Regions from separate parts of the Homo sapiens genome. Here regions 1 and 3 are each linked to region 2. Evidence: fine-mapped expression QTL. A gene starts in region 2. Each other region holds a variant in brackets. All regions are shown on one strand. Distances are between the middles of the regions.

Evidence for each region.
Region 1: its variant is fine-mapped to the expression of COMMD9 in whole blood (INTERVAL, PIP above 0.99).
Region 3: its variant is fine-mapped to the expression of COMMD9 in whole blood (TOPMed, PIP above 0.99).

The regions. Positions count from the first base shown.
Region 1 is chr11:36,187,834-36,196,019 of GRCh38, forward strand. The region is part of intron 4 of LDLRAD3 (low density lipoprotein receptor class A domain containing 3); the gene reads left to right. Among named protein-coding and RNA genes, the nearest start is that of COMMD9, 97 kb to the right of the region's middle. The variant A/G (reference allele first, on the strand shown) is at 4,347.
Region 2 is chr11:36,285,556-36,293,740 of GRCh38, forward strand. It overlaps COMMD9 (COMM domain containing 9), which reads right to left and starts at 3,869. Exons shown (of 6, transcript NM_014186.4): 1 at 3,807-3,869. The coding sequence starts at 3,857. RefSeq lists enhancers at 3,231-3,933, 3,770-4,019.
Region 3 is chr11:36,262,245-36,270,430 of GRCh38, forward strand. No RefSeq gene overlaps it. Among named protein-coding and RNA genes, the nearest start is that of COMMD9, 23 kb to the right of the region's middle. The variant C/T (reference allele first, on the strand shown) is at 4,779.

The DNA of each region.
Region 1 (8,186 bases), 98 kb before region 2:
CTGTCTCCTGAAGACAGGCCAAGATAACGTTAGATTGAATTTCAAGAGATGAAAGTGAGGTTTTTAAGTAATAGCAAAGCCTTGTGTTTCTGTAGTACTTTGTGCTTTTTGAAGTGCTTTCACAGTCATTATCCTGTTTGATCCTACTAAGAACCCTGAAAGTACATAGGTTGGTGGTTTTTATCCTGAGACTACAAATGATACCAAGGATAACGATGAGTAGGAATCAGAGCTAGAATTAACCCCTATTTTCTTACTATTGACCCAGCATGCTTTCTATGTTGAAAAGTGCACCACATCGAGAAGAGATTGGTCACCGCAGCACAGGGCACGCAGAATTCCATTAGTATCACTTACCTGGGAAGTCCAGGTGCCTTCAATAGTTGAGGGGAGTAAATGATATGACTACCTACCTTCAAAACTTGTAGTTTAAAGTGGTAACTTGAATACTCACATTTACCTCTGTTTCCTTCCTCTAAAAGAATGGTTTTTTAAAGGGTAAATCCACAGGGACAAAGAAAAGGAGAGGAAAACCAGCAAAAAAAAAAAAAAAAAAAAAAAAAAAATTGTGGAAGCTGGAGAACAAATGGGTGAGCTATGACTGGATTAGTGAACTCAGAAAATGGAATTCTAAGCTGGCACTCAGGAGAACCAAGAGGCAACCAGATATACTTCCAGAAGGCCTGGGAATTGGCAACTTGAGATAACTCTGGAAACAGAAGAGATGGGCTAAAAATGGGAAGATTAGTTGAAATTTCGTTAGGAAGCTATGACACTTTCATATTCCTTCCCTATGCTACACAGCCTAGCGACTGCCCCTCTCACACCCAGGCAGAAGACTGGAGCTTACTCTCTGCTGAGGGTAGAACAGGTCTCTGGAATACCAGATATGAAGCACAGCTGAGAATGGGGGTCCGTTTCTGAAAACAGGGATTTAGCATAAGTCAACATAATGAACATTGAAACTACTAGCCCTTTTCCTCAAGTCAGGTCCCAGAACACAGCCAGCCAGGCTCATATTCCTTCTAAGCAGGAGTTTATAAAAGTCTTCTTTGGGAAAACTCACCAGTTTAAGAGATTGGATGTCAATGAAGTGGCGCAACTGAATCATCTAATGGTGAAGCCCACAACCAAGAGCTTTTTTTTTTTTTCCATTTTTTAAAATAAAAGCTTTATTAAGACATTCACATAGCATGCTTTCACTCATTGAAATTGTACAATTTGGGTTTTTCATAGAATTTGCAACCATCATCACATTAAACATATTTATAGAATTTGCAACCATCACTGCATTGTCTACTTGCAGAATTTGCAAGCATCATCACTATAAACTTCAGAACATTTTTATCACCTCAAAAAGAAAACCCCTAGGCTGGATGCAGTGGCTCACACCTGTAATCCCAACACTTTGGGAGGCTGAGGTGAGTGAATCACTTGAGGTGAGGAGTTCAAGACCAGCCTGGCCAACATGGTGAAACCCCGTCTCTACTAAAAATACAAAAATTAGCTGGGCGTGGTGGCACACATGTGATCCCAGCTACATGAGAGGCTGAGGCAGGAGAATTGCTTGAACCCGAGAGGCGGAGGTTGCAGTGAGCCGAGATTGTGCCACTGCACTCCAGCTTGGGTGACAGAGCGAGACTCCATCTCAAAAAATGAAGAAGAAAAAAAAAACCCTTGTCCTTTAGCTATCACCCCCTGCACCCCCATCTACACCCTAGGCCTACGTAACCACGAATTTACTTTTTTTTTATTATTATTATACTTTAAGTTCTAGGGTACATGTGCACAACATGCAGGTTTGTTACATATGTATACATGTGCCATGTTGGTGTGCTGCACCCATTAACTCGTCATTTACATTAGGTATATCTCCTAATGCTTTCCCTCCCCCCTTCCCCCACCCCACAACAGGCCCCACTGTGTGATGTTCCATTTCCTGTGTCCAAATGTTCTCATTGTTCAGTTCCCACCTATGAGTGAGAACATGTGGTGTTTGGTTTTTTGTTCTTGCGATAGTTTGCTGAGAATGATGACTTCCAGCTTCATCCATGTCCCTACAAAGGACATGAACTCATCCTTTTTTATGGCTGCATAGTATTCCATGGTGTATATGTGCCACATAGCTTTTTAGTGTCCCACACTTAAAAATGAGTGTCAGCCAAGGATCACCAGACATTTGACACTTGACAGAAACCTTGAATATGAAAGACAGAACACTCACACATCTAGGGGGAGGGGGGAGGGGAGGAGGAGGAGAAAGAGGAGAAAAGCATTTTGGAGGGAAACAGGCTATATCAAGAGAAGGAAACTTAAAACAGAAAAACCTAAAAGATGACTGAAGATACAGAATCCTTGAAATAAAAATAAGATGCCTCCCCTCTTTTAAAGGACTAAACAGGAAAGGACTCATAGAAATTTAACTTGAAAAAGTTGGGATTGTTTAAGGTCAGGAAATCAAGACTAGTGTGGGCAACATAGTGAGACCCCATCTTCACAAACAATTTAAAAAATATATTAGTTGGGTGTGGCGGCACATGCCTGTAGTCCTAGCTACTCAGTTGGCTGAGGTGGGAGGATTGCTTGATCCCAGGAGTTAAAGTCTGCCGTGAGTTATGATTGCACCACTGCATTCCAGCCTGGGCAACAGAGTGAGACCTTGTCTCTAAAAAAACATAATAATGGAAAAAGTTAGGTCATAAATTTGAAGGTATATCCCAGAAGGTAGAAAAACACAAGGAAATTGAAAATAAGAAAAACTGAAGACCGGGTTAGGAGATATATATCCAAATCGTAGGAATTCTAGAGAGAAGAGAGAAAAAAAATGAGAAATTGAAGAAAATGCTCCCTGAACCAAAGAACAGTGGTTTTCAGACAGAAAAGAGCCCACCTAATGCTCAGATTGGTGAATGACAGTAAACCACACCAAACACATCATTATGAAATTTCAGAACATTGGGCAAAAAGAAGATCCTACAAGTTTCTAGAGAGGGCATTACAAAAATAAATACATAAATGAAAGTAAGTGTTTTTACAAAGGTTCAAGAATCAAAATGGTGTCAGTCTTCTCAATAACATTGGACATGAGAAGACAGTTCTGAAACAAATCGTTTCAACTCAAGTTCTGTACTATAAAGACATTTTCAGAAATGATTAAAAAGTTAGTCTCATACAGTCCTTTCAAGAAGCTGCTAATAAATACGGTCTACCAAAACCAAGGGAGTAAACCAAGAAAAAGAAAGACACAGGATATGGGAAATTGGGGATCCAACCTTAGAGAGTGAAAAGGAGCCTCTGGAATGACACTGAAGGGCCATCACAGGGTGGCGGCTGTGTATCAGGCCTGGGAGCCCTTTGTCCAGACAGTGGTGGATCCGAAGGTGTGGGGAGAGATTTCTATAGGAAGAACTTGATAGGCCAAGTAGTATGGTGGCTCACTCAGGCCTGTAATCCCAACACTTTGGGAGGCTGAGGAAAGAGGATCACTTGATGCCAGGAATACAAGACCAGCCTGAACAACATACTGAGACCCCATATCTACAGAAAAATTAAAAATTATTATAGCTGGGCGTGGTGGTGCTCGCTTACAATCCCAGCTACTCCAGAGGCTGAGATTGGAGGATTGCTTGAACCCAGGAGTTTGAGGCTGTGGTGAGCTATGAGCGCGCCACTGCACTCTAGCCTGGGTGACAGAGCAAGACCCTGTCTCTCTCTCTCTCTCTCTCTCTCTCTCTCTCTCTCTCTATATATATATATATATATATATACACACACACACACACACACACACGCACGCACGCACGCACAAAGAAGAAATTGATAGAATACTTAATGTATTTGAATTCGTTGAGAAGAGATTTATGAATCTGGGAAAGACTTTGTGTTTGAATTATTGAGAAATATATGGAATGCTAAACAAATGGGGAGGGGGAAACTTTTGTTTTCCCAGGAAGAAAAGTGTTCAAATCATAGTATACCTGTGTTGTTCATCTGTAGCATTTTCTTGATCAAGATAATAAAAACAGTGATTATCTGTAATTACTGTCTAACTAAGGGGCTTGAAAATGGGCATATGTGTGGCAGTGGCAGAGATGGTAATAAACTAGAACTAAATCCTCACCTTTTAGAGTGGGAAGACAATAGATAATTCCTCAAACTAAAGAATCACAAAGTAGCATACAAGCATGCTATTTAGAGATAAGGCAGTAAGCTTTCAAAAGAGCTAACCAAAATAGTAGAAAATGACTACTTCTGGAAGATGAGGGTCAAAGAATGCGATCGCTTTTATCAAGCCTCTTACAACTATTTGACTCTTTAAATTGTGTGCACATGTTACTTTGATAGAA[A/G]TAAAAGTGGAATTTCAAGAATGCGCTGGTAGGAACAATTGGTCTGTGACAGTACTTGCACTTTAAACGTGAGCTATCAAACAAAAACCTCTTTCAAGCATCTCTAGCCTCGCAACAGATGATCTGGGCATGCAGAAGACCACTGCACCCCCACTTGTCTCCCAATCTTGGATCCACCTTAATGATGGAAGCACAGATGCTGTGGGAACATTTCAGAAGCCTGTGACCTGACTTTTTTCTCTGCAGGTAACTGCAGGATGAGTGGTTTTTTGAAAAACCCAATTCTGAGCATTTTGGTCTACCACAAACTAGAGGAGAAGGCAGAAGTGCCATCTAAATGGGTTTGGGTCACACACAAAGCATCACAAGGCCGCTTTGTGGGGTAAGTTATAATGCTGCCCTGCTCTTCAAAGCAAAGCCACATGCATATATCTGGCATATGTGCAGGATAAGAATTCATTCTCTTTTTCTCTCACACTCCTAGGCAACCTGGATTAGGTCCAGGGCATGAATTGTGACACCTTCCATTACAAACTCCAAATGCAGAATGTGTTACCGGAGTTGTCTCCCTGGAACCTTTTAGGGTGAATGATGGAGACTCCTTTCCTGAGATGAGATCTTGCCACTTGCTCCCCGGCCAAACCAGCCAAAGCCTCAGGGGCCAAATGCACATGCTCGTGAGTATAGCAATTCAGAGCATGGACTTTGGAGCCAAACTCAACGGAGTTCAAATCTGGACCTTGCTACTTACTAGCTGGGTGCAACTCAGAGGAAGTTACTTCACTTCCCTGATCCTCCATTTTCTCTTCTGTAAAATGGGAATAATAGTAGTGTCTATGTTGTAACATTAAAGAAGACCTAGGATATGCTTTTAGCACCTATCATACATTAGCTATTAACTCAGTATTATATTTGCTGTATCATTGTGGGAAAATCACGGAATCTCTCCGAGCCCCAGTTTCCTCATCTGTAAAATGGGGGTAATGCTGCATCCTCGAGAGTGTTGGGAACATTCTGTGAGCCAATGTATACAAATTGCTTAGCCCAAAATATGGCAACTAGTGAGAGCTCAATTCATGAAGGTGATTATTACTTTCCTGCCTTTTCCTTTCCACAGCTTCTCTCCTAATTCAGGCCTACTTTCCTTTTGTCTGGCCACCAAAATAGCTTATCTGGCCACCCTGAGTCTCTCTCCCTCTTTCTGCTGTAGCTCATCCTGCATACAGTCGCCAGAACAATTTTACATCAACACGGCTTTTATCACTTCCCACACCTGCTGAGGAGCCCACTGCGGTTAGAAGATCGAAACACCCCAGCCTGTTATTTAAAGCTTTGCACGCTGAGATGTGTGCTTTGCATCTTTTCTGTCCAGCCAGTCACCTTATTCCTCATCTACCTTTGTGCCTACTGCCTCTGTGTGCTAGATGTTGTCGCATGCCCCTCCCAGCTCTCCTGTTAAGAGCACCACTTAGTTTTAATAATTGATTTGAAATGAAACCCACTTCTTTCAAAAATTCGCCCTGACACCTTTACCCTCCTCATTCCTTTATGCCTTGTCTTAGCAGCCTTTGGGGCTATAGCCAGCACTGGTCTCATGCAGCTTTGAGTAAATTTCCTTGTCCTGAAAAGCCACCGAGTGTAGTGGAAAGGGCTTGAGGCTTTGGAGGTCTGACAGATTTGGATTCAGATCTTAGCTCTGCCACTTACTAGCTGAGACATCTTGGGAATGTTATTTTACTTCTCAATGTTCTCACCAAATAGGAATTTATAAACTGGGAATACTGTCATTATTCCCAGTTTACAAATGGGGACATTGAGAGGTGAGATAACACATGAGATTATTATTACATAAAGTTCTTAGTATCACATCTGGCATTTAGCTGCTTACATATTACAGTTCCCTTCCCCTTGTTGTTTCATTTGTGCATGGTTTTTTGCTTTGCCAGAATACAGGCTCCTTAGGTGCAGGGCCCGGATGTTTTGTCTGTGTACCTTAGCCCCCTGAGTTGGTATATGCTAGGTGGTGCTTTGGTAACTTACAGGCCCAAGTCTCAGCAGTTTCAAACAATAGAGGTTTGTTTCCCACTTGCTTTGTAGGTCCATGATGGATTAGTAGGGCAGGCGTCTCTCATCTTAGTTACCCAGGGAGCTAGGCCACTCACATTTCACTGGCCAAAGCCCATCACCTAGCCAGATCAGAACTTCTAAGGGGCCAGGGAAGTGTAATCCTATTGTGTATCTGGAAGGAGAGAAATTCAGGAACATTTTCAACCACCTAGTGACCACCATATCCTCCAGGTCCTATCTCAGGTTTCCTGTGTGGAGATGTCTGTTGGCAAGCCTGGTGCCACCACTGGGCATATGGTTTACTCCCAGGACTTGGAGTCTTGGTGATTAGATACAGTCCTATTCTCCATGGGTTCATGGTTGCCCAACTGTAATTCACAATCTCTGCCAGAAACCCAGTGTGAATCCACTTGTCTTAGAACTCAACCATACCCCTACCAGTAAGGACACAATGAAGACAATAGCTTTGTCCCATCTGAAAAAATAAGCAATGTTCAGGGATTCCCAGTTCTCTAAAACTCTGTCATCCTTGACTCATTCATTCAGTCCACAATACTAGATTTGTGGAGATTTGCTGTGTGTCAAGCACAATTTTATTTACAACAATACGGTGATACTAAGACAGATGTGGTCCCTGCCTGTTCAGACCTGACAATTAGGCGGAGAAGGCAGTAGTCTAAAATAATTAACAGAATGGGCTCTGGAGTCAGACAGCTCATCACTGGGCTTGCATTTCTTCCAATCAACCTTGGGAAAGTTCCTAAACCTCTCTGTACCTCAGTCTTACCATGTGCAAAGTGGGAGTGAGGACCATACTTCTGTTATAGAGCTTTTTAAAAGAGGAAATGAGGTTGGTAATCCATATAGAACATTTCATAAAGACATCAGCTTCTAGAAAGCCCTTGGTAAATGTTAGCCACGGCTGCTATCATCATCTTCATCATCATCATTACCATCATTAGTAGTAACAGTAGGAGTATTTAGGATGAATAGTGGTAGGATGAGGAAGATGTTGAGCCAGCAGGGAAAGTTGTGCATTTTTCTAGAAGCATAGAAGCATCGTACTATGTTGGCATTGCACATAAGTCCATGAAAACCTATTTCTTATGGACCAGAAGCACACTGTGAACACCACCATTCTAGTTACACCTAACCACTGTTTATAACATTGTGCAGGGTCCAGCTCATCCCCTGTTATTGGCCATTTATGTTGTTCCAACTGATTCTCTGTTGTTGGCCCCTGAAGTCCCACCGTCTAATTCCTTTTGAACATTCAAGTAGCTTTTCATGATTAAGGCTCAGAGTATAGAAAGAACAGCTGAATAGGAATTGAACATTTTAAAATAGGGAGAAAGGACTCATAATTCTAAAAGCCAGACTAAAGGGCTGCAAAACAGCCCTTCGATGCATCAGACTTGTGCCTGTGTATATTTGTTCATGGCCTGACTTTGAGTCACTGTTCTTAAGGAAAAATATATTCTAAATCCCTCTGTGGCTCCCCTCCTCAGTCACCCAAGACACTTGACCCAGCAGTGACATGGTGAATTTGGCATTGAAGCAGGAAAGACAGGAGAGCCAGAGACATGCCACTGTTAATTCCCCATATGTGCATAAAATTCAGATACCTCTGGGTCTATATTTACTTGTGTTTAGCATCTGCACGTAAAGAAAGGGAAGTTACCCCCTGCTACCTCCCATCAGTCAAGCATCACCTGATTCAAGGACATACTAAGCCACAGTCAGCCCATCCCAACTTTTTGCCAAAATGCCTAC
Region 2 (8,185 bases):
CAGAAAAATGAGAAAACTACAGACCAATATCCCTCATAAAAATAGATGCGAAAATTCTTAGAAAATAATGGCAAATAGAGATCAGTTATATATATGTATAATATTTTATTAGCAAATAGAGACATATAATTATATATAATTATACAATATGACCAGGTGGGATTTATTCCACAGATGCAAGGCTGGTTCAGTATTTGCAAATCTATGTAATCCATCACATTAACAAAGAAAATCACATGATATAAATCAATGCAGAGAAAGCATTTGATAAAATTAAACATCCATTATTGATAAAAGCCCTGAGAAAAATAGGAATAGAAGAGAACTTCCTTATCTTGATAAACAGTATCTACAAAAAACCTACAGTGAACATTATACTTAATGGTGAAAGACTGAATGCTTTGCCCCCAAAACTGAGAACAAGGCAAGATATCTGCTTTCTCCACTCTGAATCAACACAGTGCTGAAAATTCTAGCCACTAAAATAAGGCAAGGAAAGGAAATAAAATGTGTGCAGATCAGAAAGGAAGAAATAAAACTGTCTCTATTTGTAAATAACATGATTTTCCATGTAGAACATTCCAAGAAATATACCAAAAACTCCTAGAAACAATGAGTTTAGCAAGTTTGCATGTAGAAGATAAACATACATAAATCAGTTGTATTTCTATTTATTAACAATGAACATGTGGACACTAAAATTAAAAATACGGGCTGGGCATGGTGGCTCACATCTATAATCCCAGCACTTTGGGAGGCCAAGGCTGGTGGATCACTTGTGGCCAGGAGTTCAAGACCAGCCTGGCCAACGTGGGGAAACCCTGTCTCTACTAAAAATACAAAAAAAAAAAAAAAAAAGAAAGAAAGAAAGAAAGAAAGAAAAGAAAAAAAAAATCAGCCTGGAGGGGTGGTGGGCACCTGTAGTCCTAGCTACTTGGTAGACTGAGGCATGAGAATCCCTTGAACCCAGGAGGTGGAAGTTGCAGTGAGCTGAGATCATGCCACTGAACTGTAGCCTGGGCCACAGAGCGAGACTCTCTCAAAACAAACAAACAAACAAACAAACCAAAAAAAACCAAAACCATTTGCAATTGCTCAAAAAATGAAATACAGGATGTGCATGCTGAAAACTACACAGTACAACACTGTTGGACAATCATTACATGGAATACCACTCAGCAATAAAAAGGAAAGAACTATTGATACACACAACATGGATGAAAATTAGGCTGAGTGAAAAAAGTCAATCTCAGAAGGTTACTTACTGTATTATTCCATTTATACGGCATTCTTGAAATGACAAAATTAGAGAAATGAATAACGCCAAAGGTTAAGGAGAGTGTGGCTATTCATGAGGAATCTTTGTGGTGGTGGAAATGTTTTGTATTTTGACTGTCAATATCAATACTTTTGACATTAGGTATTGACATCCATTTATCCTTTACCCAATTTCCCCTATGCAGAACCATACATAATAGTAAGTATGCTATATATGTATACTACATACTATGTATATCGCGTAGTATGTATACTACATACTATGTATATCGCGTAGTATGTATACTACATACTATGTATATCGCGTAGTATGTATACTACATACTATGTATATCGCGTAGTATGTATACTACATACTATGTATATCGCGTAGTATGTATACTACATACTATGTATATCGCGTAGTATGTATACTACATACTATGTATATCGCGTAGTATGTATACTACATACTATGTATATCGCGTAGTATGTATACTACATACTATGTATATCGCGTAGTATGTATACTACATACTATGTATATCGCGTAGTATGTATACTACATACTATGTATATCGCGTAGTATGTATACTACATACTATGTATATCGTGTAGTATGTATACTCTATATTATATACATACTATACATAATAGTATATATACTATATTATGTATAGTTCCGCAGAATCCTGCAGAACTGAGGGAAACTGAGTAAAGGATAAATGGGATCTCTCTATATTATTTCTTACAACTACATATGGATTTATAATTATCTCATAATAAAAAGTCTAAGTATTTTTTTAAAAAAAGAAAAGAAAGTACACAGGACAGTAGCAATGAAAATCAATGAACTACTGCTACATAATGGTGAGCAAAAGAAGCCAGGCATAAAAAAAAAGTATATGCTGTATTATTCCATTTATGTTAAGTTCAAACATGGGCAATATTAAATGAATTGTATCAGAAGCAAACATAGAGGTTACCATTGGGGAAGAAAGTGAGGAAGCAAAGAAAGGGCGAAAGGGGGACTTCTGGGGTACTGGTAACATTTCATTTTTTGACTTTGGTGGTGGTTACATTGGTGTGTAATAAATCATTTAACTGTAAATGTATGGTTTATGCACTTTTCTGTATGTATACTACACACTAATCTTTTAAAGTTTTTAAAAGAAAAGAGTGCATAAGACCAACAGGTATAGGGGCGGGGGTAGGTACAGAGCAGCCAAAATGAAGGTGAAAAGGCACTGGGTTGGGAGCTGAGAGCCCTAGATTGCCAGTCCCAGCTCTGTTACTTCATTTATTAATTCATTTAACAGCTATTTACTGAGCACGTGCTGTGTGCCAGGTATTATTGTTCTACTTATTGGGCATTAACACTTGTGAACAAAAGAGTAGATCCCCTTAGGAGTGGAGAATGCTAATGAACACTGAGAAGGCAATTAAAAAATAAATAAGTAAAACAAAACAGAGACTATTACATGGACCGATGATGATGATGTGCCATAAATTGAGGAGAGTAACTCAACCCTCTTCACCTGGTGTTTAAAAAAAAAAAAAAAGAGAGAGGAAGAAAGGAAAGGTCCCTGATGGATCTTACATTCTTATGAGACAGACGGACAACGGGCAAATAGCTAGCGACAAGTTCTACGAAGGAAAATAAAGCTGCCCTTTCTCCTACAGGGCAAATCATAAGTTAAATAATTCCGGCCAGGCGCGGTGGCTCACGCCTGTAATCCCAACACTTTGGAAGGCGGAGGCGAGTGGATCACGCGGTCAGGAGTTCAAGACCAGCCTGGCCAAGATGTTGAAACCCCGTCTCTACTAAAAATACATAAATTTGCCAGGCTTGGTGGCGGGCGCCTGTAATCCCAGCTACTCGGAAGGCTGAGGCATAGAATTGCTTGAACTCGGGGGGCGGAGGTTGCAGTGAGCCGAGATTGCGCCACTGCTCTCCAGCCTGGACAACAGAGCTAGACTCCGTCTCAAATAATAATAATACTTCATTTGAGCTTTACAAAGCCCTATGAAGTAGGTCCCTTTCAACCTCACAACTTTTCAAATGATTATCAGGAGTATGTCCTGCCCCTTTCGCAGGTCAAAGAGAGTAGGGAAAATCTGGACCTCAAGGGAACATTGAACGCACAGGTCATTCGGAGGGCTGGGCAGACGCAGTAGGAGATAATTTCTTAATTGTGCAATGCAGGAGGGGCTACGGGATGAAATGGGGAACTGACAACGTGGGTCTAGCAATTACCACTTCAATGCACCAATACCGAAAACCAATCCCAAAGACTAATAGCAGGAGGTTGTACTGCGCCTTCATGCCCATTATTTTATTTTTTTTTATCTTACGTTCCTGTCAAAACGATATTTTGTTCTTACTTTTTAAAAGCTCAGAAAGACGCAACGATTTGCCTGGGATCACACAGAGAACAAGCAGCAGAGTTGTGGCTCCAAACCAGGGTCAATTTGTTCCCAATTCCTGCTCCGTCTAAAGTCTCGGAGACAAAGGGCCACCTCACGCTGTCCCCACCCCTTCGACTTACCTTGAGCAGGCTCTGGAGTGCTGCAAAATGCTCCGCTGTCAGGGCAGCCATCTTGCCGAAGTCACATGACCGTGGCACCCAGGGAAGCGAGGTCACGTGGCTGTCGCTGTTGTCGCGGGGCCTGCCGGGGGCTGTAGTCCTTCAGAGTGGGGGAAGGCGTTTCGGTTGTGGTGCTGCGGCAGTGAGCGCGGATCAAGACGGACGCGGCGGCTGGATGACTAAACCCCGAGACTCTAGAACCAAAGGACTAGGGGGACCAGGGCGGAGGATGGTTTACTCGGGGAGGAAATTGGCTTGACTTGTCTACTTACCAAGTCAGGGAAACAGGTTTTCCCTTGACCCATGTGGGTGGGCTGGCGCACTTGGGGAATGCACCTGCAAGCTTGGCAGGCGCCTTGGAAACGTAGTTGTTCAGGAGTGATCGGCGTACCAGTGTTTGGAATGAAAATGAGGCTGTGCATATCGGGCTTCTTGGAATTGACACACACACATGCACACATCCTGTCTTGAATGTAAAATTACTTCTGCGTATATAGTTTTTCAGCCTATGTAGTAGGTTGGAGCTGGTATTATTAGTATTATCCAGATTGGGAAATAATCATTTAGGGTTTTTAGTAACTTTCCCATAGTCATAGAGAAGATCTGATTACAAGAGCAGGTGAGGAAGTGTTTGGGAGAGGGGACAAGAGAGGAATGGAATGAAAGCTACTACCTAGCTAGGTTCTTGTTATACGGGGGTGAGATGGGGGAGGAGGTTAATGGAAATGATTTAGTTCATTTATTCAAAAAGGTAATTATAATGAATATAATTGTAAAGAGTGATTTTGCACTGGCAGTACTGGACTCTGATTTGCCCTGTTCTCAGAGACCGTACATCAAAACAGACATTTCCTTTATCTACCTTTAGTATTTGGGTGGCTCTTTTCTTTTCCTACCCTCCACTTTTTTTTAAGCAAATTCCAGCTCAAAAAATGGGTTCTGATATATTCGAGCTTAAGAAAGAATGCCCATTTGTGAAATTCCAGAAATTGGTAAGCTGCTAAGGACATTTGTTCCTTTGTCTCCTCTCCTCCCCCTTCCCCTTCCCCGACTCCATTTTCTGTGGGGATGTTGTCAAGGCCCAGGAAACCAAAAATCAAATTGTCTAAGGAGGAACCCATTCCTGGATTAGAAGATTTTAGAACCATTTTGTCACAGGGTCCTGATTCTAGCTCTCTTTCTTGGCCTCTCTTTTCCATGAACCCTCATGGCCTGATTCCTGGTTTCTGTTATAACTCAATGTAGGTTCTAGGTTTAACTCCTGCCTGTATCTATAGGGCTGGGCCCATTGTCTTGGGTTAATTGAATATTTGTTAAATAAACAACCACCCAAAAAAGTGATTAGACTAAGATGAAATTTTGTGACTTATTTGAGGATATTGCCTTGGTATTTGCAGGATTGTGCCTTCTTGTCTTACTTTAGAGTAATGAGGAGTGTGGTCACCAGCCTTCAAGATGGCCCTCAATGATCCCAGCCTCCTGGTGTTCACAACCTAGTGTAGACACCTCCCACCATGTACCAGGATTGGTATGCATGACCAATAGCAAATGGTGGGTGTGAATGGCATATCACTTCTGAGATTAGGTTATACAAGACTGCACCAAAAAACTAACAAAAAGACTGAAGTTCCTGTCTCCTGGCTTGGGTGCTCTCTCATGTGCCCTGCTCTCTTTCACTTGAATCCTTTGCTCTGGGGAAAGCAAACTGCCATGTTGTAAACAGTCCTACAGAGAGGCCTAGGTGACAAGGAACTGAAGCATCTGGCCAACAACTTCATTACTGACCTGAGAAGCAGATTGTCTAGGCCCAGTAGAGCCTTAAGAAGGCAGGAGTCTTGGCCAACAGCTTAACTGCAACCTCATGAGAGATTCTGAGCCAGCACCACCCAGCGAAGCCACGCCTGGATTTCTGGCCTTCAAACACTATTAAGATTATCAATGTTTGTTGTTTTAAGCTATGAAGCTTTGAAGTAATTTGTTATACAGCAATAGTAACTAATGCATGGTGGCAGCAAAGCATAGGGGTTTTAGAATTCAACCTGAGTTGGAATCCTAATTCTACACATTATTAACTTTTCCGTGTACAAATTCTTGAACTTCTCTGGGCCTCAGTTTCCACCTCTGTAAAATGGTGTTCATCACACCCATCTAGTTCAGAGAGCAGAGCTGAGCGACAGGAGCTGCTTCAGTGGGAGGATTCCCAGCTCTCCTTACTCTCGCGGGCTGGTATGATATGAATGGCACCATGTCATCCCATTTTGGTAGGGCTGCCCAGATTGCCAATGCCATGTTGCATGTAAAGGTTTGTCTGTGGTCTGCAGAATGTCCAGCAATTTCTAAACCATAAACATTTTCATGGGTGGGAACAAAACAGAATGTCGGAGTTCATTTCTGTGATTTGGTCCCATTGCCTGGTTTTCATTAGGCCAAACCTAATTTCTTTCCAATTCTGAATATAGGAATCAGTGCTGACTTTCATTTATTTAATAAACTTGTTATGTGCCCGGCTCTGTTCTAAGCCCTTACATTTACTGATTAATTTACTTCCCATTCCTATCCTATGATATTATATATATACGTATGTATATACATACACACACATATGTACACACACACATAAGTACATATACATATATAAGCACACACACTGTATTGTTTCCATTTTACATATGGAGAAACAGACATAGGCAGATTAAGTAGTCTGAGGTCACACAGCTAAGTAGTGGCAAAGCCCAGATTCAAATATGGCCAGTCTGGCTCCAGATTCTGCACTGTTAACCGCCAAGCTGTACATGTCTCCTTGTTGTCCCACAGCTGTAAATTTGTGTTTCTTCTCTTTGCATGTCTGACTACCTTCCTCAGGCAGCAAGAACAATCTAAGAGTGTTCCTGTACAATCAGTCTGGTGATGGTGAGAAACAATATAATGAGTGAGTGGAAGGGCTACCTTGGGCTTTGGGAAAAGACCTAGGTTCAGTTTCCAACTCCTGTGTACTGTTAGCAAATTACTTCCCCTCTTGGAACCTCAATTTCATCATCCGTAAAATGGGAACAATAATAAAAATACCTTTTGGCCATTAGGGGGAGCTCAAGGATGACTTATACCCCAAAAGGGGAAGGATTGCTTATGTGGATTCTCAGTTCTAGTCATTGGCAACGCTAAAGGGCAGAGCTTTCCCCTGTTGTGGGCAAGGGTTTGCACGAGGGGGACTGGCCATCCCAGTTTTCCCAGGGATGAGGGGTTTCCTTGGATGCAGGACTTTCAGGGCTAGCGCTGGGACAGTTCTGGACAAACCAGGCCAGTTAGTCACCCAAGTTTGAGCCCTGAGCCTTGGGGGAAACCAGCCTTTTGGAACACTTGCCCTGATTTCTCCAGTGGGGCAGATATGAAGCAAGGGATATGGACACAGAATTTATTAGTAGAAAATGATTAAGGGCAGCAATCTTAGTATTGAGGGTTTTTTTATAGTAGCTTTATTGAAATAGAATTAACATTCACATACCATACAATTTATCCATTTGAAGTGTAAAATTCGATGAATTTTAGTATACTCACAGAGTTGTCCAACTATCACCACAATTAATTTTAGAACATGTTCATCATCCCCAAAAGAAACAGCATATCCTTTAGCTATCAACACCCACCTCTGCCCCCAATTCTCCCCATCACACCCAGCCCTAGGCAATCGCTAATCTGCTTTCTGTCTCTATGGTTTTGCCTTCTGGACATTTCCCATGAATTGGATCATATGATACGGTTTCTCCTCTTATACTAAGTAAAGGAAACGAGTACAAAAGACCACATATCATATGTTTTGTACTCGTTTCCTCTACTTAGCATAAGAGGAGAAACTTCTTCAAGGTTCGTTCATGTTATAGCCTGTATCGGTACTTCATTCGTTTTTTGCTGAATAATATTTTTTTGTACAGATATACCATAGTTTGTTCATTCATCAGTTGTAGACATTTGAGTTGTTTCTACTTTTTAGCTGTTGTGAGTAATGCTGCCATGAGCAATCATGTACAAAGTTTTTGTGTGAACATGTGTTTCATTTCTCTTGGAGTATACACTGAAGAGTGGAATAGTGGAGTTTCTGGGCCATATGATTACTCTGTGTTTAACCTTTTGAGGAAGTGTAAGACCATTTTCCAAAGTGACTGCACCATTTTACAGTCCCCAGAAGCAATGTATAAGGGTTTCAATTTCTCCACATCTGCACCAACATTTGTTTAAAAAAAAAAAGAGACAGAGAGATGGGGGTCTCTGCTCTTTTACCCAGGCTGGAGTACAGTGGTGTAATCATGGCTCACTGTAGCCTCAAACTCCTGGGCTCAACTGAT
Region 3 (8,186 bases), 23 kb before region 2:
CTGGGCAACAAAGCAAGACTGCATCTGTACTTTTTTTTTTTTTTAATCAGGTGGGCTGTTGTGGTGTGTGATACTTGGCAGGCTGAGGTGGGAGGACTGCTTGAGCCCAGGTGGTTGAGTCTGCAGTGAACCCAGATTACACCATACTCCAGCCTGGGCAACAGAGCGAGACCCTGCCTCAAAAAAAAAAAAAAAAAAAAAAAAAGAAAAGAAAAGAAAAGAAAGAAAGAAAAAAAAAAGAAAAAGAAAAGAAAAGAAACCCTATCTAGACACAGAGCCATTGCAAAGAGCCAGCAAATATGTTTGATCTGTCAGATATGTTTAGCAGTGGAGGGAGCAAAACTGAGGCTGGGCCAGTAGGACATGTACACTGGGGGCGGCTGAAGGCTCAGTTGAGGTCTGAGGAGGGCAGACGAGTGGGGCAAATAGCCCTGCCCCTGCCATCCATAGATGCTTCTCATTGAGAGGGACCATGGCCTGGGGGGCTTTCTTGTGATCTCGATGACACTCAGCAGTGACATGAGTGGGACGGGGTTTCCGGTCCCCGTGGCATGTGCTTCCCCCCAACCTTTCACCAAGGACCTACCATGTGCCAAAGACTAAGCACTGGGGATAGAAGGTGAACGAGACCGGTGTGGCCCCCCGCCCTGCTCTTGGACCTGCCAATCTCCAGGGTTTGTTTTCTTGAGACTCCTGACGCTGCCTGGCCCGAGTCAGCACTAGGGATTCCTGATCTCTGCATATCCCTTCCCAGCCATCCAAGACAGCAAGAGCTGTTGCTTCTCTTCTCAAATTTCTCCCTTGGCTTCTTGATTGAGAGTTTCATCCCAGCTATGGTTTAAAAAACAAACAGCAAACAAACAAACAAACTAACCACACACTCAAACAAACCTCAGACTGCACAATGGAAGCACTGCCTGGAATCATAAAGATCATTTGTTCAATGTCCCTTTTTCTCACTGCCAGGCCAGTGCTCTCGTCTGCACCATGGAACCCATTATGACTTGAACCTTTCCAGATTGATTCCCCATAAACCTAATGAAGACATTGGAAAGGTGAGCTGAGGTAAGGTCGTGAAGAAACTCTAATGGAGCCCTATGGAGTTTGGAGTTTTGACAGCATACTGGGGACAATGGGAAGCCATTGACAGAGAAAAGCAGGACAGTGCCATGATGCATCTTCCATTCATTTATTACATTCAGTTAGCAAATATTTATTGAGCAGGTACTCCGTGCCAGGCTATGGGGATATAACATCGAACAAGATAGACAAGTTGCTCATCTTCATGTCTCCAGTGGGGAGACAGACAACGACCATGGTAAATAAATGAGAATGCACATCAGTTCACTGAATTAATAAGACTTTCCATGGCGTGGAGTGGTGGGGGGCAAGAAATGAACAGGATGCTGTGATTCAGAATAAAAGAAGGAATCCTCTTTAGAGAGCATAGCTTGAGAAACTTTCTCTAAGATAGTGATCTTTTAGATAAGTATTAAAAAAATGGGAAGAACCCAGTCTTTTCAAGAGCAGGGGAAAGAGTGTTACAGTTTGGAGCAGGGCGAGGGGTGGGTGGGGGATGCAGTGAGTGCACAGGCATTGCGGCTGGAAAGACTTTGGAGGACTCTTGGAACTGAAGGAAGGTTGGTGTGAATGGAGTGCTGAGGAAAGTGTTATGAGCTCAGGAGGCAGAGGGTGTCAGATGTCATCATGCTTAGAGGCTACCATAGGTGAGAAATGACAGAGTCATTAACCAAGGTGGTGCAGAGATGGAGAGAAATGGACCAATGTGAGTATATTTTGGAGAGAGAACCAGCAAGTCTTGCTAATGGATTAAATGGGAGGAAGGTGGGTATAGCAGCAGGCAGAGAAGGAGGCAGTGATGTTTCCCACGTCTCTGGTTGGAGCTGTTGTTTACTAAGATGGAGAAGCCCGGGAAGGTGGGACCAGGTTTAGCGAGTAAAACCAGATCAAGTTTACTTTCTGGAAAGCACTGGGAAGGCTGGACTTGGGGAGGACAAGGCCAGTGCAGGGTGCCCTTTGGAGGCTAATCCAGTATTCCAGGTGAGAGATCATGATGAGGATGGGCTAAGGTTGTGAAGGGGGATGAAGGGATACCCATGTCTCTGCTAAACAAGCAAAGAGAAGAGTTTCCCACTGCTTCAGACGCTATGAATTTCATTTTGTGAGATGGCTCAACAGACCAACCAGAGGGAGGAGTTCTTTTTGGGTAAGGTTGAAATGAAACCAACATGTGGAGAGGAGTGGAGGCGAATGATGTGGAAAATGGGGTCACGAGAGAGACCAGGCAGAGACTGCAGCAATGCAGTGTCTTCCACAGCTGGCTGTTTGACATGGGAGAGAGGAGTCTGGATTCACCATCTGTGCCAGGGAGAAATCCATCCTGGGAAACAGATGGTCAGCAGTCATGCCCATGCACCCTGGATGACCACGGGGGTTCCCTGGGGCTCTGCAGCCCGGGTGATTTTCTTGGGAGGTTTGGGACAAGCATTCAGAGGCTGTGGGCATAGCAGGCTCTAGGATTTCTGCTCTTGATGTCACTGTTACCCAGACCCCTAGAGCTGGGTCCCAGATGGTGCAGCTGAGACGAGCTCTCTTCTCCTTAGCCTCACTGTCCTCCAGCAGTGCCCCTTCCAGCCTCTGAGGTTAGCAAAAGGCAGTGGCTGGTGGCACTGACTGAGTGACCACTCAGTCAACCCTAGTCCCAGTCAGGATAGCCATTTTTTTCATTCATTTGTTCATTCATTCCTACATGCATTCAACAAATCCTGACTGAGTATCTGTAACTACAGGCACTGTCCCAGGCCCTGCCCTTGAGAAAACGCAGATCGAGAATTGGACAATGCGGGCTACCAAGCCCTCTCATTCCCTTCTTCCTCATCCTGTCACTGCTTCTGGCCTTGAGGCCCAGAGCTGACCCGAATCATCACCCAGGACCCATTCCAGCCCCTGGCCCTGGCACTGCTGATTCTGATTTAAGTCCATTTCTTAATTTTATTTCATGAGACTAAAATGTCGTCAGAAATCAGGTTGTAAAGGACACTGAATAATATTTTTCTGAGTTTGGGCTTTATTCTGAGTATTTTAGGCAGGAGAGTGACATCAGATTTCCATTTGCAAGACACCTGCAGCAATGAGGAGGAAGGATGGGAGGCGGGGTGAGAGGGATGGCACGATGGGAGGCAGGGAACCAGTTTGGAGGCCTTTGGACTCGTCCAGATGAGAGGTGACAAGGACTCCTTGCCATGTCCCCCCATCCCCAACCCCATCACATCAAACCTACTCTCAGAAAAGAACTGATGAGTCCTCTGATGTGTGGAAGGGCTCACCCCAGTGGAGGCACCTGTGTACATATTTGAAGTTAAACCAACACTGGGCATCTTTTATTTCTCAGACACCTTCATGTACAATGAATCCCCTCCAAGCTGCATTGCCAGGAAAAAGTACTTTCCATCTCTCCCTTTTAGAGATGAGAAACTGAGACTTAGCTCTAAGCAGACCTAAATTTGAATCCTGGCTCCACCACCTGTCCAGGTGTAGAAAGTTCCACTGTGGACTGACTGTGGGACTTGCATGGTTGCCATGAGCAAAACCTGATCTGGAAGAGTTGTATCTAATGGGCCCTAATGGTGGCATTTCAGAAGCACCGAGGAGACCCTGGGGGCTTCTGCAGCTGGGTCTGGGGAGCAGGGTTGAATGGGTGCCCTGGGTGGGCCTGCGCTGCCTGCTCTGTCTTCTGCCTTCTCTGCCTATGTTGCCCAGGGCCTGAGCAGGAGAGTTCTGTTAGGTGAAGGGTCTGGGCCTGAGGTTTTCTTTTGCAGGAAGCGTCTCCCCTTGCGGGGTTCTAGGAGAGGCCTGCCCACTACCCCACCTTCCCTCAGCTTCCCTGGTCTTTGTTCCGATTTTAGGCCAGGGTGGGAAGATAAGGAGGACGACTGCGCCATCTGCTGGGCATCTTGGGCAAGCTCCAGCTGCGCCCAGGTGAGGTTTGGCTTTTGCGCATGAGAACCTTGGGTCACCAAACAGGGTATGGCCCCTTGACCAATAATGTCTTTTATAGAAGTAGCCCCAGGGATACACTTCCAGTTCAGCTGGTGCCAGGAAACTCTCGGTACCCACAGAAGCTGCCCATTATCTGTGCGCTCAGGTGTGGGGAACAGAAAGGTGAACAGTGTGTGGGGGAAGGCACAGACACAGACCATTAAAATGCAGTGTGCTGAGGAATGATGGAGAAAACGCAGGTGGGGAAGACAGGCCAGTTAATTTGACTTCCTGGGCCCCTGTTAGGTGCTGCTCCTGAATCCAGAAGGATGAATAGGAATTAGGCCAGGATTAAGGGAAGGCATTCCAGAGAGAGGGCATGGCGGGGCAAAGCCCTGGTGACCATGCTGCCACCTCTGCTCAGGCCCAGGGCTAGTGCCTCTTTCCTGCCCTCCTCCAGCAGTTGGAGACTTTGCTGACCCCTTGGAAGTGCTGGTCCCTGAACTCTACAGTGGCAGGAGCTCAGAAGATCCACGTCTGCCCCTCCACTTACCACCTCAGCAGCAGCTCCTTCCTACCCTCATCCAGAGTTCCCAATCCCTACCTCTTCCTACCCAAGCCAAATAGTGTGGCTGGGAGACTGCTATGAACAAATCTCCCACGCTCACAGACTCAAAACCAATAAAGGCCAGAAATCAATGCTGGAGAATGAAAGCAAGCTGGAGAATGATGAAATCACCTAGTTGGTGAATTAGGGCCCAGCTGAGGTCGATTTAGGA[C/T]GAGCAATTCAAGTGAGCGTGAATTCTGTCAGTCTGCCATTCTATTGCATTCAATCTAATTCAGGCATGGTTTACTACACAGGTCAAATCCTGTGAGTTTGTGGAAGAAGTGGGATGCAAAGGGACATTTATGGGGCAATCTACTGTGCGCCAGTCACAGTGGAAGATATCATGGATACCGAGTGAATGAGACATGGTCTCTGTCCTCAAGAAGCACCCACATCACCACCTGCTCCTCCCCACCACTGCATAGTTCCTTTCTGTTCTTTTCTCTTCCTGCAGAAAAGCTGCTTCCAGGAAAGCAACTGATAAATTAAGCCACACTGAGCTGTAGTCAGCTGAGTGGGTGTTTATGACCGTACCTGTGAATTGTCTCTCACTATCTGCTCTATTTCAGTAAAATACAGAAACCCACTAGCTCATTCTCCTGCCCTCCCCCACCCCAATGTGTTAGCTACACACAAGACCACCCAGCAGAGACTGTATTTCCCAACCTATCTTGCAGCTAAGTATAGATCATGTGATTGAGGCCAGTGGGATATGAGTGAAAATAACGTGGCAACTTCTGGGGTATACCCTCCTCCTCCTCATCCTCTTCCCCTTCCCTCTTTCCCATGGCTGGGATATAGACTTGGAGGGTGATGGGGCACAGGCTTTGCTCACAGCAATGAGGGCAATACTTGGTGGCTGGTGAAACAAGATGGAAGGATTCTGAGTCTATAAACCAGAGCAGAACGATCCTACCCACTCAAAGCCCCTACCAGCTCAGACTTTTACATAGAGAGAAACTTCTAAATTCTTTAATCCATGGAAACTGGGTTTTTGTTAAAGCAGCCAAATCAATATCCTAATACAGTGACTCTTGCTCCCTGATGTTTAATAAGCAAATAAGCAAAAATATCTTGAGTAAGAGCTTTATCAGAGTTCCTGAAATTCTAAGCAGAGGCCATCCCCTGAGCTGGGGATCCAGCATGTGTATAACAATGACCCCATGCCCTCTGATATCCCAGAGCATCTCTCAAATCCTTTATCATTCAGTTTGTTGGGACAGTATTGTATTTTACTGTGTGGTATGTGTGTTAGGTCATATGGCTAGTTCAACATTGATAACAATAGCCAAGAAAGTTCCATTCTTCAGCCTGTGGGTCTATGCAGTTTACTGTAAATTTATGAGATGCATTACTTAAGTAGTTATCATCTCTACTTACAGATGAGACCTAAAAGCCCATTAGAGACTTTCCCAAGGACCTGAGGCTAATAGAAACTCAGCCTCTCAGACTAACCTTCAAGAGCTCTTGACACTTCCCCAAATAAAGAACCATTCCCTCTCCTTAGAGTTTAGGGTCCTCTGACACCAACCAGGGAATACTACTAGAAAATCTTTTTTATTTTTTCTTTCTTAAAGTACTTGTAAAAAGGACGATTAAATCACAGAAATGTGAGCACCAAAGAAAGAAGGAAGTTGTGCAAAGGTCAACATTATGCTGGTAAGAGAATGTTTAGGAACGATCAGTATTTGGAAGCCAACAGGCACAGGTTCACAATTGTTCTTGTAAATGTTCAACCACTGGAAAACTTTCAAAATGCCAGGTAGCCAATGGCTTCCAGATTAAAATATTAAAACAAATAATAATTTTTTTAAAAATTGTCACTTCTGATAACATCTCAGCTTACTGAACAAAGTAACGGAGAGCCTCTCGCACCACGCTGGACTCGTTTCCTGGAAATTTGTAAATACCAGACCACAGAGCTTGACTAATGACTATTGGACATGGTGCCCACTGTGTGTGTTCAGAGAATTGGCTTGTGTGGGAAGAACCCAAATGTCTGGTCCTCGTGCCAATTTGTCTTTGGACCTAAAAATCACCAGAAAAGGGAGGCAAAGGAAAATGACCATGATCCAGATGGAGATGGTAAGGCAGGACTGATGACGGAGTGAGCCAAAAGTTGCCAAATTAAGGGGAAATTTAGGCGATCTGCAAAGAATCATGAGTTTTCTCTTCCCCAGATTGAGGCAGGAATGGAGAAAACACTGGCTTTTGAGTTGAAAGCCCCAGACACAAGTTCCAGCTCAGCCCCAGACTACTCTGAGCTGACTTGTCCTCAGTAAAATGCACAAATACTTGTGAATGGATGCTCCAATAACCTCAGAAGGTTTGTGTGAAGAGGTAAGATGATATCTAAGAAAATGTTTCAAGTTCTCTCATGTGCCACACAGGTGAGGAGATTTATCATTATATCATGAGAAAAAAAGCTGAAATGGGGTGTTGGGGCATGTATTATTACAATTCTTTTTTATTTTTATTTTGAGACAGAGTCTCACTCTGTCACCTAGGCTGGAGAGCAGTGGTGCGATCTCAGCTCACTGCCACCTCAGTCAAGCTCAAGAAGTCCTCCCACCTCAGCCTCCTGAATAGCTGGGACTACAGGCATACACCAGCATGCCCAGCTGATATTTGTATTTTATGTAGCGACAGAGTTTCACCATCTTGCCCAGGCCAGTCTCAAACGCTTGGCCTCAAGTGATCTGCCCGCCTTGGCCTCCCAAAGTGCTAGGATTGCAGGCGCAAGCCACTGCACCTGGCCACAATTCTTTTGAACAATTCTTCTTCCTTTTGCTTAAGCAAAAGAGGAATCTTTTGGTTCCAATGACAGGTGTCAGTAGTCATCAGAACTAATCACAAATATCCCACTTCTCTTCCATCCTGGCACATGGTAGGATTCAGCTTCTCTGCCCTTTCATGGTTAGGTGTGCCCATATGATTTGACTGTTACTTCTGGGCAGGAGCTTTAAGATCACAGGTGCAATTTGCCATAGTCCCTTTCCCTGCCTTGGTGATTGTGGAGGCATGTGTTGAGATGAAGCTTCCATCATCCTGGGCCCTTAGTGATTACAGTGAGCAGACTACCCGCCCTCCTCCTCCAACCTGCAGTGAATGTGCAGCATTGGCAAAGAAACTTTAGTTGTGTAAAAAGCCACTACAACCTTGGGATTGTTTGTTACTGCAGCATAACCTTGTATTGAGTATATGTTCTTATTTTCTGTATTCTTCATGCGCTAACATTTGGGTCCTTGATCCAAAGAGGTCACCCCATTCAGGGCTAGCAAATTCCTAGAGAGAGAGAGAGAGAGAGAGAGAGACACACGGGTCGGGGGCGGGGTGGCAAACAATTCTCCTGGGAGCGTGCCTTTGATGTACAAACCAGCTAATCTGGAGCCCACACTCCCAACCATCTTCTTCTTTTTAAAACCAAACTCTCACACACCAAGCCAATATTCTCTCTGCCCTAAGTCACCCTAGGGTCAGACAACTCGGGACCATCCCTATGGCCCTGAACCCATCCAAATTATTCAAACTATCCAACCCTAAACTTAGCCAGCATATGTACCTTGTCTTAACCATTCCT